Regions from separate parts of the Homo sapiens genome. Here region 1 is linked to region 2. A link means that fine-mapping ties the variant in region 2 to the expression of a gene that starts in the linked region. Tissue or cell type: whole blood. Region 2 holds a variant in brackets; the other region holds the start of a gene. All regions are shown on one strand. Distances are between the middles of the regions. Region 1 holds the start of NCAPG2 (non-SMC condensin II complex subunit G2). Region 2 has its middle 35 kb from the start of MIR5707.

Evidence for each region.
Region 1: it holds the start of NCAPG2, and the variant in region 2 is fine-mapped to the expression of NCAPG2 in whole blood (TOPMed, PIP above 0.99).

The regions. Positions count from the first base shown.
Region 1 is chr7:158,703,697-158,706,601 of GRCh38, forward strand. NCAPG2 (non-SMC condensin II complex subunit G2) reads right to left here and starts at 1,108. Exons shown (of 28, transcript NM_017760.7): 1 at 1,028-1,108. RefSeq lists an enhancer at 1-447 and silencers at 1,025-1,124, 1,275-1,364, 1,485-1,764.
Region 2 is chr7:158,625,203-158,628,107 of GRCh38, forward strand. No RefSeq gene overlaps it. Among named protein-coding and RNA genes, the nearest start is that of MIR5707, 35 kb to the left of the region's middle. The variant G/A (reference allele first, on the strand shown) is at 1,423.

The sequences.
Region 1 (2,905 bases), 78 kb after region 2:
CTGGTACTAAATCAAGATGAGCATTAAAAAGAAGAAATCCCTGTTACCTTCTCACCACCTGTGACTTCCCACTCCGTCCCCAAACTCCTTCCTCATGGACACAACAAGAGGCACCAAACCAGCAACAAGAGTTCAGGAGACTGATGTCTCTGAGGACAATGCCCACGTCCACAGCTGGGGAGATACTCTCTGAGGGCAGTGCCTACACCCAGGGCTCAGGGGGACTCTCTCTAAGGGCAGTACCGACACCCAGGACTGAGGGGACTCTCTCTGAGGGCAGTTCCCATGCCCAGGACAGAGGGGGTCGCTCTCTGAGGGCAGTGCCCATGCCCAGGACTGAGGGGACGCTCTCTGAGGGCAGTGCCCATGCTCAGGACTGAGGGGGTCGCTCTCTGAGGGTAGTGCCCATGCCCAGGACTGAGGGGACGCTCTCTGAGGGCAGTGCCCATGCCCAGGACTGAGGGGGTCGCTCTCTGAGGGCAGTGCCCATGCTCAGGACTGAGGGGGTCGCTCTCTGAGGGTAGTGCCCATGCCCAGGACTGAGGGGACGCTCTCTGAGGGCAGTGCCCATGCTCAGGACTGAGGGGGTCGCTCTCTGAGGGTAGTGCCCATGCCCAGGACTGAGGGGACACTCTCTGAGGGCAGTTCCCATGCCCAGGACAGAGGAGGTCGCTCTCTGAGGGCAGTGCCCATGCCCAGGACTGAGGGGACACTCTCTGAGGACGGTGCCCATGCTCAGGGCTGGGGGGTCGCTCTCTGAGGGCAGTGCCCGCGCCCGGGGCTGGGATTTTCCTCCGACACGGACAAGAAGGACGGGCGTCGCTGAGCTGGGTAGGGGGGATGGCCCGGGGTCGCCAGTTCCGTCCAGTTCCGTCAGAGGCAGCACTGCCCGCACGCAGGTCGGCCGCCTCCTTAGGGGAGGGGAGGCTGGGACCCCGACCAGCCGAGGAGGGGCTTCCCGCCCGATCCCTGCTACTTCCCAGCCCCTGCTCTGAACCCAATCCCGGCTCGGCACCGCAGCTCTTACCTGGGCTCGGGGACCCGCCGTTTCCCGCGCTCGGACCAGATTCAAACGCACCCGCCGGCGCCCCAGACGGGCCCCGCCCTCCCGGTCGTCATCAGGCGCCGCTCTCGCGAGAGCTGGGGCGCCGCGAGCCTCGGGCCTCGCCCACACGCCCGGCCCGCCCCGCCTCCAGATCATGCCCCGCCCACATGCCCGCCAGTCTTCTTCCTGTCTATGCCCCGCCTCTTAGGGCGCGGCCTCGAGCAGCTAAGCCCAGTGCCCTACCGGGCACTACGGAACGCGCACGCGGGGCGCCACAGCTGGGGAACCCATGCCCGGTCCGCGCGCCGACGTCCACTGCGCGCTCGTGCGCGTCCTGGGGCCTCCGCGGAGGGAGTGCGCGGTCCAGGAGAGGGCGGGGCGCTGCGAGCGGGCGGTGTTGTGGGAAGGAGGAAGGAGAGGAAGAGAGAGAGGGGGAGAGAAAGGAAAGGCTTGGGGCGGGGAGAGGCCACAGGGCCGTGTCTGGATCCCCGGGAGGACCCCACCCCGACCTGGCCGGCCCCCGTGACCGCCCTCCCTGCCGAGGGGGCACCTGTCCGGGTGGTCCGCAGCCTGCACACGGTAGGTGCACCCTGGGCAGGTGCTTCCCCCGCAGGAGCCCCTCCGGCCAGGTGCGGCCCCTAACAGGTGCTTCTCCTGCAGTTGCTCCTCCAGCAGGTGAGGCCCCCGGCAGGTCAGCTGCCCATAGGGTGGAGAGGGAGAGGCCTTAGCGGGGACCCTCGGAGGCACCCGTGTGAAGGAGGAGTAGCAATGTCATTCAATTCTTTGGACTTAAATGCCAAAATCACATACTGATGTATCAATCTCTTTTAATTTGTGTCAGCGAATAACTTGATTGGGCGTTCCCAATTTTTGTTGAAAGCAAATTCTTAGAAAACGGTGCTCTTTACCACCGAGCTCTGCATCCCTTCGTGAGGACTTGGCCTTCCCTGGAGCTATATTCTTTCATGCTTGAGATGTCTAGAGTGGTATCTGTTTTCCTGGCTTAACTCAAGCCAGAGGTCTTGGCGAGATTGAAGTCGTTGCACTGTGGGAGCACAGCACCAACCAATAGGAACATCATGGGAGCCACAAGTGCACTTGTAAATTTCTAGTGACCACATTAGAAAAATGAAGATAAATAGGTGACATTAATTTTTAAATATGTTTTATTTAGCCTAGTATATCAAAAATATTTATGTTACTTGTTGGAATATCGTTTCAACAAGCAATATAAAATTATAGCAGGGAGAAGACTGGTTTACTAGGAAGCTTGCAACAGTGAAGCAAGGCAGGCTGCAGAGGGGAGGGAGAAGACCCACTCAGAGGATGCTGAGTCTGGGACCCTTGTCAACAGGTGGCCGATATCTAACATTGCCTATTTCATCCTGGGGCTCCAGCCACCTCTGACCTCCTCCTCCCTCCATACACAGATCCTTCCCTGCCATTTCTTGAATTTTGGTGCCCTCATCTTCTCACTGCTTTCTTCTTAGCAATTTCCTTCATATCCAAGGTGCAAACTGCCACCTTCAAGCAGTGACCTCTGCATCTGGATTTGCAAGACACGGTTATTTCTGAACTCCAGAATTTTCAACAGCTCACTGCCTACTCCCACGCTGGTGCTGACATGCATCCAAAACAGATATCGACTTCCCCTCCCACCCCTGAATCCTGCCCCTTTCCTTATGCTGGTCCCTCCTCCAATCAGCCATCTGTTCCTGGGGTTTCCACTTCCTGAGTAGGAATAATGTAACAAGTTACGCATGTGAGCTCTGAAGCTGTACCACCTGGGCTAACCTGGTTCTGTGCTCACTAGCTGGTGACCTTTGACAAGCCATGGACGACTGAGCCTCAGTTTCCTCA
Region 2 (2,905 bases):
GCAGCTGTAATCCCAGCTACTCGAGAGGTTGAGGCAAGAGAATCGCTTGAACCCAGAAGGCGGAGGTTGCAGTGAGCCAAGATCACCCACTGCAATCCAGCCCAGACGACAGTGTGAGACTCCATCTCAAAAAAAAAAAAAAATGCATAAAAAGGATTTGACAAAATTTTAACACCTACTCACGGAAAAAAATTCTCAGAAAACTAGGAATAGAAAGGCACTTCCTCATCCTGATAAAATGCATCTATAAACAACCTACAGTTTATTGAGCTGTGGAAGACTGAATGCTGTGCTGTGGAGACCAGAACAAGGCGAGAGTGCCTGCTCACACCACTTCCAGGCTACATTTTACTGGAGGTTCTCACCGGCACAAAAAGGAAAAGCAATAAAAGCATCCAGACTGGAAAGGAAGATGTAAATGGCATTTATTTTTAGATAACCTGATCGTCTGAGTAGAAAATATGACAGAGCCTATAAATAAACTACCACAAGTCATCAATGAGCTTAGAAAAGTAGAATACAAAGTCAACATACAAAAAGAAACTGCCTTCCTCTATTCCAGTATAAACAATTAGAAGTTGAAAATTTAAAAATACTACCATTTACAACAGCTCTATAAAACACAAAATACGTAGGGATAAATTTAATAAAACATATGGAAGACCTATATCATGAAAATGACAAAATATTGGGAGAAATTAAATGTCTGAAAAACTAGACAATGGTCATGGATCAGACGACTCAACACTGTTGAGTGTCAATTCTCCCTCTGCCCGAAGAGCTTAGCAGCCTAGCAGCCTAGCCTCAAACTGTGTTTCAAACTGTTTTTTCTTTTCCTTTTCCTCTTCCCCTTCCCAGTCTCAAGATAAAACTTTGAGACAAACTGCATATGTGTTACCTTTCATCTCGAAATACAGCCTTGGAATGTGCTGCGAACCTCCACTCCCTTTCATTTTTATTTTTGGAAACAGTCTCGCTCTGTCGCCCAGGCTGGAGTACAGTGGTGCAATCTCCGCTCACTGCAACCACCACCCCCTGGGTTCCAGTGATTCTCCTGCCTCAGACTCCCAAGTAGCTGGGATTACAGGCGTGTGCCACCACGCCTGGCTAATTTTTTGTATTTTTAGTAGAGATGGGGTTTCACCATGTTGGCCAGGCTGGTCTGGAACTCCTGACCTCAGGCAATCCACCCACCTCAGCCTCCCGAAGTGCTGGGATTACAGTCGTGAGCCACCGAACCCGGGCCCTCCACTCTTCTTTCTTTTCCCACTGTATGCTCCCATGCTTTATGCACATGTATTTACCCAGATACTAGTTAAGCACACACCATGCTCTCTTATCTGGCCATTTATTTGCTTAGAAGCTTCAGGGGTCGGGTCCTAAAAGGGACTAGGCAACTCCGGAATTCTCTTTCCAACAAAA[G/A]ATTATTTCAAGGCCAGAACCCTCTCCTGGCTGAAGAGTGACTACAAGATTGACTGTGATTAATTTATAACCTGGTAGGATGCACAATGGTGCCGGCCCCTTCACCAAATGGGACAATAATTCAAGAAGGGCCACTGAAGCAAGTCACGCCACCTGGCACCTCTTAGTCCCCCTTGCCTCTTCCGCATTCCAAACCCTTTCTGTAAAACCCTGCGTTCCCTCCACAAACTGAAGAGTGGAACTGCTCTTCCCCTTGCCTGCACAAATAATAAAGGAATATCACTCTTTCTCATCATAACTTATTATTTTGCCTTCTTTCCATAAGTGGCCGGACTCTTTTTGCGAGTTAATCCCCAGCTTGATCTGTAAATTTAGTGTAATCACAATCAGAATTGTACTGCATGTTTTCGTCTGTAGAAATTGACAAATTGATTCTACAATGTATATGAAAAGGCAAAGGAGCTAGAAAAGCCAAAACCACATCAAAAAACAGAAAGCCAATTGGGGACTTGCAATTCACAATTTTAAGACACAGGTACGGCTCAAATAAAAAGGACCCTGGGAATTGGCGTAAGGATGGCCATAGCTCAGTGCACAGAAAAGACTCCAGAAAGAGCCCACACAGGTATAGCCAACTGCATCTTGACGAAGATGCAAGGTGATTTCATGGAGGAGGAAAGGGTGCAGGAACAACGGGATAATCATATGGGGAAAAACCAAAAACAACAAACTGAACTTGGACTCCACATCCAAGATTAACTTAAAATGGATTACACACCTAATCATAACAGCTCAAACATACACTTACACAGCAGAGCTTCTCAACATCACACCATTGACCACTGGGCTGGAATGACTCTTTGTTGCAAGGGCTGTCCCGTGCCTCCTACCTGAGGCATTTTGTGGCAACCCAGCCCACCAAGACACCTGTGCCACTGACGGAAAGAGGGGCAAACTCATGCCCAGCTGAGCCCTGCTGGTCTAGATGAAGGGCAGGTCCAGAGATGTGTCATGGAGTTCCTTGATAAAAATATTACCTTCTAATGGTGCAGGGACTACTAGATATCCATATGGCATAAAGAAATAAATAAATCCTTACCTCATACCATACATAAACATTAATTCAAAATGGATCACAGACCTAAACACAAGAGCAGAGCTTTTAGGTTTCGATAAGGAGATAATAAAAGCAGCCACAGACACCAATGTAGAAATAACAGCAAGATTCTCGGCCGGGCGCAGTGGCTCACGCCTGTAATCCCAGCACTTTGGGAGGCCGAGACGGGCGGATCACGAGGTCAGGAGATCGAGACCATCCTGGCTAACACGGTGAAACCCCGTCTCTACTAAAAATACAAAAATTAGCCAGGCATGGTGGCGCGCGCCTGTAGTCCCAGCTACACGGGAGGCTGAGGCAGGAGAATGGCGTGAACCCGGGAGGCGGAGCTTGCAGTGAGTCGAGATTGCGCCACTGCACTCCAGC